2 separate regions of the Homo sapiens genome follow, and region 2 is linked to region 1. The links come from fine-mapping of genetic effects on gene expression. A gene starts in region 1. The other region holds a variant in brackets. All regions are shown on one strand. Distances are from middle to middle. Region 1 holds the start of PRICKLE1 (prickle planar cell polarity protein 1). Region 2 has its middle 170 kb from the start of LINC02450.

Region 1 (5,378 bases):
ACTGAAAATTGTTTCCCATGATATTAGAGAGCCCAAAATATAGGTATAGGCCATTAAGAGAGTTACTTAATTACTGGAAAATACTTTGTAAAGATTCTTGTTCCATTTCATGAGTATTATAGACAATCACTCATAATACTTAATTCTTTGTATTTTGCTTTCAAGTAATTATAAGAGATTTTAGAGAAATTATGATGCAACTTTTAAAACTTATAATTCAGCTTACTTTTTAAAAGCCTTAATCAAAGAAACTGCAAAATTTAACTTTTTTGGTCTTTTCAGAATTATCAAAAGAGAGAATATTAGGAACAACTAGACTTACCTACATCTGACTCTAAAGTTAAGAGTTCAGCTATTAACCCTATAGGAGATCTTTATTTCTCCCTAGCTAATATTAGATTTTATCTGGGGGACTCAAGCTGACTTATTACACCACCACACACCATGGACAAATAGTGCTTCCATGGACCTTGATTATAAAAACATAATAAGCTTTTTAAGCTTCACTGGTGTTACTGGCAGAACTGATTGAATCTGTCACTTTAGTAAAATATATCATTTTTCTTTTTAAAACCTATGAACCAACAGGCTCACTCGGTGATAACTCGCCAATTAGTACCAAATTAAAGATGGAAAAATTAATTTACTAAGCCCATTCAGTTGCATCAATATGTCTATCTCTATAAACTATCCAGTTTTTCCTTCCTTTTTCCCTCCCTCTCTCCATCCCTCCCTCTTTTCCTTCCTTCCTTCCTTTTGAGGCTTATTTATAAGAATGAATCATACTACATTAGCCATGACTTATTAAACTTGGAGATTTTCAAGTTCATCAGCAAGTGTGCAAACCCTTAACTGTGGGTAACATCCATTTATTTGTAGCACCTTTCGGTTTTAATATGTAGAGCACATGCATTGTTAACCTCTAAATCCTTTGTATAAACATTTCTGGAAGAGCTGGTAAAATATCTCCTTCTGTGTTTCCTGACTCGCCAGTTGATGGCATTTAGAAACCCTCTGGTACCAGCAGGTGCTGTATTTTGCTTTCTTCAGGCTCCAGCTGGGCTACAATGACAGATTCCTGTCCCAGGCCAAGCCTAGCCACCAAGGCTAGGACCACATTGGAGGCAAACTGAACCAGGCTCCACCAGACAGCAAGATGAATGGCTGCTGTTTAAGTTTAAAATCCCCTGGTGGGAGTAAATATTGTTCCAGAGAAAAGCCTTGACAAATACTGCGTCATCCTTACAGAACTGTCTTGATTAAAGCAGAATCTTTGGATTAAGTTGATGCTCAATTCAAAATGTATCTATCTTGCTGTCATGGGATTTTTTTTTGTTTTTTTTTTCCTTTCTAGAGTCTGAAAACAGACATAATGTTGGGGACGGTCAAACAAGGCTGCCGGCTCCCAAGGGGCTAGAGTCCACTCCTGATAATAGAAGGCGGCTGAACACTGACACTTCACTGAGGATAATGGAGACAGCAAAGGCTTAGTGGGAAAGGGCCAGTTGTCACCTAAGTGACAGGCAACAGCTGAGCTCACACATCTGGAGCCGGACTACGGCAAACATTAGCAACCCTCACCAGTCTACACCTTGGGCCTGTCTGAAAAGACAGATGGAAGTTCCCTCTACTCCTAAAGTACATTAAAAAATGTCTGATGGTGAACCACATCAATTATATAACATCAACTGCAGGCACAGCCTTCCAAAGTACTGATTAAGACGAGGCAGTAGACAACACTGTATGCATGAACAGATACAAGATACCATTTCAGTGATTTGTCATTCATAAAACTTATCCTAAAAGACACATATACATGCATCCATTTGATAGCACAAATGCATGTTAACTCTGCAGGAGAGGCAGATTTTTACATGTTTTTTTGGTTGTAGTTGTTGGTGCTTTTTTTTTTTCCTTTAGGCTGGTTCCCGTGGTGTGTTTGCCTTGTTCATGGTCTCAGTTCTGCCGCTGATACCCTTTTAAAAATCAGCAACCAAACGCGTTCGGCTTGTGATCCTGAACCCTCCTTAGGCAAGCTGGAACTAAGCGTGATGCAGCCGTCCTCCCTCTCTCCCAACCCCCAACCTCGTTCTTCAGCCTCCTGAAGACAATCTGTGAACAATTTTCCCAAAGTCCCAAGAATAACACAGCACTGCCAATAGTCACTGGCGATGCCGTTTGTTTTTCTTAGAGGGTAATGAAAATTTAACAGCTTTCTGCTGCATCCTGAGTCCCGCTCCTAATAACTATTAACATGCCTAGTTTCTTCAACTTTTTCTACCTCAAGAGAGGAAGACGCTCCCATTTTTTCCCTATATCTGTGCTACATTCAGCAAACACCATCGCGGGGCAGGGGGTTGGGGAGAGTGGTGGGAGTTGATTCGCCTCTGCCAAAAAGCCACCAGCCCCTTTCCCCAGCGCTAGAGGAGAGAATCGGTACCCTCCCTCCGGACGCCAGTAGGTGACAGGCGATCCTAAGCGGCGGGAACACGCCAACGCACCCTCGCCTCCCGGCGCCCCGCATCGCCTCGACCCTCGGGCTACAGAACCTGTTTCCACGCCGGAGAAAACCAAGGGAAGAGTTGGTTGTGATGCAGCAAACAGGAGCCATGCGGAGAGCCTCTGCGGAGCCCTGGCGATGCTGCAGCCAATATCTGCTTTCCCTGTCTACACAGCCCAACAAACCGATTATGACCTTCTCCCTGATCTTCTGCGACACCGACCCAGTCTGGGTGTCACAGACTCCGGCGGTGCCAGCGAAGGTGCCCGGCCCTACCCCTGCGGCGCTCGCCCCCCACCACCGCGCCGCAGCCCCCTCTGCGGAATCCGCCGGGATCCAGGCTGCCACTCACCTCGCGCGAGGGAGACGCAACTCGGCTGCACTGTCCTCGGCGCCGCTGCGGGGCTGCTGGGCTGCGGGGCTGCGGGGCTGAGGAGCTGCGGTCCGCGGCGTCAGGGGTGGGCGAGGGTGAGCAGCGCACGAACCATCCAGAGCCCAGAAAGTCTCCGTGCCGACCGCGGCGCGTCTCGGGGAAGTCAGCGCAGGCTGCGCGAGGCTGGCATGTTCCGGGCGCGCTGTCGGGCGGCGGCGGCCGCGGGAGACGGCGCTGGCAGCTGGGCTGCAGGCGGAGTGCGCTCGGGCTCCGGAGCCGCGCGCTGCGGCGCCGCCGCGCACCCCGCCCTCGGCCGCGGGGCCCGGCGCGAGCGAAAACGCGGAGCGCGGACGCCGCCGCGGGATCGAGGCCGCTGGGCGCGCGCCCACGCGTACCCCGGCTCGGCCCTGAAAGCGAGGTCGGGCCCGGCTCGGGCCGCGCCCGGGGGCAGGGCTGCGAGCAGGCCTGGGACCGGCTCCACGCGCAGCCAGTGGGGCAGAGCAGCAGGCGGATTATGCGCAGGGAGAAAAAAGTTCACCAACCGCGGTCCAGAGTCGCAAGTGCGGCTCGCTCGGAGCCTCTGCCCCGCCCCCGATTATAAGCCTTTTTTTTTTTTTTTTTTTAACCAACAATCCCGATGGACTGAAACACAGGAAGAGTGAAGGGACGGGGTGGGGGGTGGGGGAGAGACAAACCCAATTTCCTCTGATCAAACGATTTGGGTAGGGGTGCCTATTTGAGTTCCTTCTCCTTCGGGGGGTGTGTGAAGGGGGCAGTTAATTAAACACTTAGATTCCTTCCGGCGCGCCTTGCCGAGCTGGGGACCCGTTTGGACTCGATCCTGTCTCGTGTAATCCCACAGGCTGGTCTGAGTCTCTGCCCCGGAACCGGAGGAGTGATCTTTCAGAGCAAGAAGCCAAAGTTCAGCCTCTAGTCCGTTCCCTTCCCCGCCTCGACGGCCCTGGTCGTCTCCATGAAAACTCAGTGTGGGGGATCGTGCCCGCGAAAACCTCAGCCCACCGCAATGTCCAGAGCCTGACCCAAGTGAACGTGGCGCACTTAAAAGCGGGTTCAAAGCATTGATCCGAACACGGTGACAATTTTTCACTGGCCAAACTACTCTCCACATTTTCAGTCTGCTCAATTCCCAGAGCTGGGCTCTCAGGCGCACTCACCCACGTTGAACTGGGGCTCAGCCTGTTTGAAAGTTCTGCCCTGACATTTGTGTCACACTAAACCTTAGAACCCCCCACCCTCTCCAGTTCCGGATCGGTGGAGTCTCACCGTGTGGGTACTATTTCCCTGGACTGCAGAGGGCAGACACAGGCGGCAGCTGTTAACCCGAACTTGACAGGTGCCTCTGCAAAGCCAGGGCTTCCTTGACCTCTCCATCCTCTCCACAACGCTCTAGGATACTGTATCATCTTCCAGGAAGATGAGGATGTGTGTGGGGGGAGTGTGGAGGGAGGTGTTGACTGATGCAATTTTTATCCTTTTAAGAAAAATCAAAACTGCCAGTCTCAGAATTTCTCAGAACATCAAGTCTTTTCGATTTTCGTTGGGAATAAAGCAAAGGAATACTCAGCAAAAATGGAGCCGATGAAAAGAGAATGCAAGGAAATAAAGGCAAATGGAGGAGGAAACTGTCTAAATCCAGGAAAATGTATGGCTTCAGCACTGTGCTCTATAATTCTGACTCAGATCTCCCCACGCTGTAGATACTTTCTCCTGTCTAGATGCCCAGGCAGAGTTCCTGAGCTCAGATCACTCAGGAAACAAGGCTGTTGCTTTTGAAATAATTCCACTTGCTAGCGTTGTTTTTTTTTTTTTTTTTTTTTTTTTTTTTTTTTGAGACGGAGTTTCGCTCTTGTCACACAGGCTGGAGTGCAGTGGCGCGATCTCCGCTCACTGCAACCTCCGCCCCGCCCCCGTGTTGAAGCGATTCTCCTTCCTCAACCTCCCGAGTAGCTGGGATTACAGGCACCTGCCACCGCGCCCAGGTAATTTTTGTATTTTTAGTAGAGACAGTTTCCCCATGTTGGCCAGGCTGGTCTCGAACTCCTGACCTCAGGTGACGAGAATCTGGGAAAGAACAAACCAGGTTTTCTTGCCCCTCAGCATTTTATTGGAATTGGCCTTTGAAGTTGTGTCTGTTTATCTTGCTGGGGTTACAAATGCTTCTATTAAGCTATCAACTTTTAGGTTCTATCTAACCTCCAGAACTGCCAAAGAAAATTTCACTACCTCCATAGGTGAAATAAATCTTATTGCTGTACAGTGACTTCACAAAGGTTTTGTTTGTTGAGCATCTATTATGTGGAGCAGACACCCTGAGCACTGTGGATGATACATGGTCATTCCCTCTGGAGGATTACTGCCTCTTTGGACTGTGTGCTGGGCAGCATCTTTTGGATCCATTGCAAAGGTGAATACTTGGCCTTCAACCAGGACTCATAAAATTACTCCGGCCAGTGCATGTGATGGTCTGAGGTCACAACAGTCTGA
Region 2 (5,378 bases), 270 kb after region 1:
CTCAGCATTAACTGAAAAGCATAGGATTAATTGAAATTTCAGAATGGTCTGTCACTACTTCCTGATATCAAACAAGCAAGAGATTGATGGAGCAGCTCTGGACCCACAGAGAGAAGCCCAAATGTGTGGAGTGAGTGGCAGGGTTGTGGTTCCACAGGCCTGACAGCAAGGAATGTACTCCTGGTTTTGAGAATCAGTGGAACATTTATGTTGATTATATCAAGCTCTTAAATCTCTTTCACTTCTCAGTGTCAGCCAATCAGATTATGGAATTTTTGAAAATTTTTTTCAGTCCAAAGTTAGATGGATATGTATGTGGATGCATGAACTCTCCCCAAAATGATTATAAAATAGAACCAAAGTCATAAATCATTTTTAATTGAGTAAAGCTGGTCCCCGAGGAAAAGTAGTTAAAATAGAGTGCTGGCTAATGGGTCCACTGTGAAAGACAATTGCAGCACCTCTGATGGGTGCCATTGTTTTGAAACTGTCACTAAATTGTTCCAATTAATTTCACTTGGATTTATGAATAAATATTCTTTCTCCATTGGGCTTTCTAACTTGTCTTTGTGTTAGAAAACCCACCTTAGCTCCATCAACCTACAATATTTTTTCCAGTGGTATGATTTATATGCTAATGATTTTCTAATTTATGTATTTTTAAAAAGCTTAGGGGACATCATATTTTTGGGTAGTTAAAGCAGTTTTTTGGGTGAAATATATGAGAATAACTAACAGTAGGTGACAATACAAAGGGAAAGTGTGATTTAATGAGCTGCTTTGGAAATAGGTTAGAACATTGACACTGAGGGGAATGTGGGCTCCCAGTGCACTCCCAGCTTCAGGACTATTCTAGAAACTGTAGCGAGGTATTTCTTTAAGCCACAAGAGTGTGAAGTCTTTCTAAAGCTTCTCAGAGACCAAAAGGGGGATACTAATGAACACAAACTATAATACAATTCTAATTTTACAGTACACTTAACGTTGCTGATAGCATTTTAGAGCATAATTAAGTCAAATTGGAAGGAGATTTTGGTAGGAAAATAGTCCTCTTGGCTGAGAAAGTAGATACTCATTTAAGTATTATTTACCCTCCGTTGACAATGTGCAAGCAAGCACCGTGGAGTTTACACAGTAGAATTCTAAAATATATTAAAATAGTTTTGAGTATTTTGTGATTTCCTGTCTCACGTGAAGAAGCATCTACTTTAGGATGACAGAAGGAAATGGGGAATTATGCCTGTACACTTCAACTTCTCTCAATAGAGGACTAAAAAAAGGCAGTACTACCCCTTCCAAAATATAACATAGTTTTCAAATAACAAGCTGCTTAAATTAACTTAGGGAGCAGTCATACAGAAGAAATCATTGGCTTTTAAAAGCAGATTTCCCTTGAGTACTACACTGACTTTTTCTTTTCTCTTGAGCTTCATAAAATGGAAACGGAAGCACGTATTTTCTTCCAGTGACCTCTACGTTATAATTTTAAAATATTGGTTAAAGACTGAAAGGTAACCATCATTAAACTTTGTAAAGAAAAATCAGAAAATCTAACTAAGTAACTTCAAATTAGCTACTTAAAGTTCCTTCTCAACTGTGATGATCCTCCTGGAACATGAGATAAAGATAAAGCTTTATCTTGCTGGCTGCTACCATAGCTTTCAGCTATCAAGGATCCTTTCTGTTGGTTCCATAGAAATCCACTAAATTGGGTCTGTTCCCTCAATGTCCCCTGTCCACGCCTCAACCCCTTTCCATCTCATCGCTCATCTTAGTCAGCCTTGCTAAACAGCAGTTGAATGGAACACATCTGACCGAAACAAGGACTGTAAAACTGCCCAACTCTTTGCTATTTTTCCTCATCCCACTTTAATTTTTAAAGACTTTGTTTGAACCCCAGAACTTGTGATGCATCAATCAAAACTTTGCAGTTAGGGACAACAGAAATATGAAATGGTCTTATATGTCAATGAAGGGGTTAAGGGAGCCATTTTTCCAGGCATTTAGCCTCAAATTAGCACTCTGGAATGTGGGGAATGTTTTAAACATAAAAAAAGCTGAGTTGTATATTATAATACATGGTAAATTTTTAAATGTTAGGGTTTCATATCACAGAACATACACACTGGAAATTAAAAGACCCATTGTTTTGAAACTTCTGCTGTTCAGATTCTTCCCTAAGCACTAGTTATAGCTGATTTAAAGACAGGGGAGGGGGTCTTAGCAGCCTGATGTGTGATTTGAGGTTCTACTTCCATTCCTTTCTATGAAAGCTGGACGAGCAGAATTCCCAAACTTTGGTCTGAAGATTTAGGGCTCACTTTATCATTACCTTTGGACCAGGCAGCTGGTTAATTTCTTGGAAACCAGGAGAAAATGAAATATTAGCACAAATAGAGTTACAAATTGGTTTTCAATCTGCCCTTTGTTGAAAAATTTTTGTGGTGCCTCGGATAGTTTACAAAGTATAAGAGATTTCCACCGTGGAAA[A/T]TTGGACTCCGAGCTCTTTGAGAGTATGAAATATATCTTATGCCTTTCTTGTAAACTTTGCATAATTGTTTAGTTTGGCTAAAGGAATTAGCGGAGATCTTTGACAGGAGGCACAGAGAGCCTTGCGATGGAGCGGCTGTCTAGTGAGTGGGCAAGCTGGCAGTGCCCCAAGAGGCGATAATGTAGGAGGCACCACAAAGCCCGCCTTGTTCCAAAATGCCTCTCCAAGCTTGGCCATTTCTCTCACTCAGCAACTTCCTCTTCCCCTGACTCCAGCAATTGCTCTTTCATGAACTATAAAGTTGCCCCCATGAGTTAGTCCCTTAGTTACTTCCAGCAGGCCACATGGAGCTAAGTCCTGGTGAAAGGGTGCCAGAAGGGATCAAATCCTTCATTCCTTTCTTCTTCCCTTTCCTTCCCTCCTCTCTCTCTCTTTTATTCCACCTCCCTCAAAAAGGGCTTATGATAGTGATTTTTAAAACAAAATTCATTGACCTGGAATCTTGTATCAGATTAGGCGATTAGGAAAGAGAACGGAAAAGTCCAGGCAGTGACCCTTTTTTTTTTCCTGCCTTTAGCATGAATAGACACTTTCCTTCACATCACATCATCAGCCCTACTGGGTTTTCTGTCACCTTCTCTGCCTCCCAGGAATAGATATTTCAATGCAAGTGGGTGAGAATAAACCCATTATGGTCTGTATTATATACACCCCCAAACATGTAAATCATTTGTTTAGTCAGGGTTCTCTAGCAGGACAGAACTAATAGGATAGATGTATATATGAAGGGAAGTTTATTAAGGAATGTTGACTCACAAGATCACAAGGTGAAGTCCCATAATAGGCTGTCTGCAAGCTGATGAGCAAGGAAGCCAGTCTGAGTTCCAAAACCTCAAAAGTAGGGAAGCTGACAGTGCAGCCTTCAGTCTGTGGCAGAAGGCCTGAGAGCTCCTGGCAGATCACTGGTGTGAGTCCAAGAGTCCAAAAGCTGAAGAACTTGGAGTCTGATATTCAAGGGCAGGAAGCATCCAGCATGGGAGAAAGATGAAGGCCAGAAGACTTAGCAAGTCTAGTCCTTCCACGTTCTTTTTCCTGCTTTATTCCAGATGTACTGGCAGCCGATTAGATGGTGCCCACCCAGATTCAAGATGGGTCTGTCTCTCCCAGTCCACTGACTCAAATGTTAACCTCTGTTGGCAACATCCTCACAGATATACCAGGAACAATACTTTGCCTCCTTCAATCCAATCAAGTTGACACTTAATATTAACCATCACAGCATTTATTATTATAAGATATTTTAACTATTCTTTGTAACAGATTATGTGACAGCTTCCAACAAATCTGGATTTATCATGGGTTCCCCTAGGGAAGATGCTAGTCAGACAGGGAACAACGTGGAAGCAACTGACTTCTTTTTCTACTTTTTAAGGAGAGAAGGCTTGATAATAGCAGCAAGCATCAAGGATACAACTATGGGCAGCTTCAATGAGTGAAAACCATCTGCTTTAAAATCAATGTGTGCGATATGAATGATTAAAAAATTTTGCCCAGAGTTTTCTTTGCAGTAGTGCGGGGGTAACTTCTCATGCAAACGGTGTCTGAGATAAATTTCCTTACTACCTTACTATAGTCGTAGTCTGAATAAATTTATTAAGAACCTTCTGGAGAACAGGATTGAAAGTGAGAAGGGTAGACAGTTGCCTGCAAGAGCTACTAGGCTTCAAAGGGGTAACTGAGGGGTTGCCTCAGTTACCCAGAATAGTGCAGCAGGTAAAAGGAGAAGATGGCTAAGGAGAACTAAGAACCCACTGCTGGAGCTGAAAGAGATGCAGAATTAAGGGATGTCAAAGTAAAATGAGAGTTTTACAAGATATAAATGAGTGTATCTTAATGCAATGGTGTCCTTCAGGCATCTGCCTCTATTCCCAGGCAGAAACCCTATAAATAAACCTGAACCCCTTTTGTATCATTTTGAAAGCTCATCTAGAATTGTCATGTTTATTTAATCACATTTCCACTTCAGGAAGTTGATAGGATGTTTCAGGAAGATAATAGGACATGCCAGAACATTTGAAAAGAGACAAACTTGTTGTCTTATACAAGACTGAGCTAGCTAGCTATCAATCTGTCATCTATCCTTCATTCATCTATTGATTCAATTTCTGCTGTGAAGTTAGAATACTTGAAGATTTCAAAGTTTTCCAGTAACCTTATGTAACTGGCATGATGTTTCTTCAGATTGGACTATATTAGGCCATATTCTGTGTTTTGGGTTTTCAGGCACCCTGGAAAACTTCCCTCCCTGCCTTAAAACGCCAGTAATCACTTTGACCACTGTTCTAATGCAAACAGTGTCTGAGATAAATTTCCTTACTATTGTCATAGTCTGAATAAATTTATTAAGAACCTTCTGGAGAACAGGATTGAAAATGAGAAGGGTAGACAGTTGCCTGCAAGAGCTACTGGGTTTCAAAGGGGGAAAGGAGTAAGTAAAATGGAAGTTGGGGTCTTGTTAAAATTCCACTTTACAGTCTTGTGAATGACTAATGTCATTGTTATCCACTAGAAGGATAAAGAAACAAGCTTGGTGATAGATTACGTCATGTGCATCCTTGTGCCTACTGATGTGTGAGGAACTGCTTTCAGTGGAACATGAATTATTACAAATTGATGTGGTTTTTGGAGACCTCTTTGCTGAGAGGAGCCTTGGTTTTAAGATGGGTAGGTGTTTGTATTAAGCAACGATGTCCTTTCTTTTGTTTCTGTCAGCATTAGAGAGACTGAGGTGGAGTAAGCAAGGTGTGCAGGGGGAAAGGACTAATTCAAAAAATCTTATGGGTACAAGTAGCAAAAACTTCCTCTTTGCAATTCTGGTTCTAGAAAA

The links. PIP is the estimated chance that this variant, and not a neighbour inherited with it, causes the effect.
Region 2: its variant is the best candidate, but not a certain one, in a credible set for the expression of PRICKLE1 in nasal epithelium (TOPMed, PIP 0.55).

Annotation. Positions count from the first base shown.
Region 1 is chr12:42,586,613-42,591,990 of GRCh38, forward strand. It overlaps PRICKLE1 (prickle planar cell polarity protein 1), which reads right to left and starts at 3,134. Exons shown (of 8, transcript NM_153026.3): 1 at 2,853-3,134. RefSeq lists a silencer at 3,138-3,387 and an enhancer at 3,857-4,414.
Region 2 is chr12:42,857,176-42,862,553 of GRCh38, forward strand. No RefSeq gene overlaps it. Among named protein-coding and RNA genes, the nearest start is that of LINC02450, 170 kb to the left of the region's middle. The variant A/T (reference allele first, on the strand shown) is at 2,491.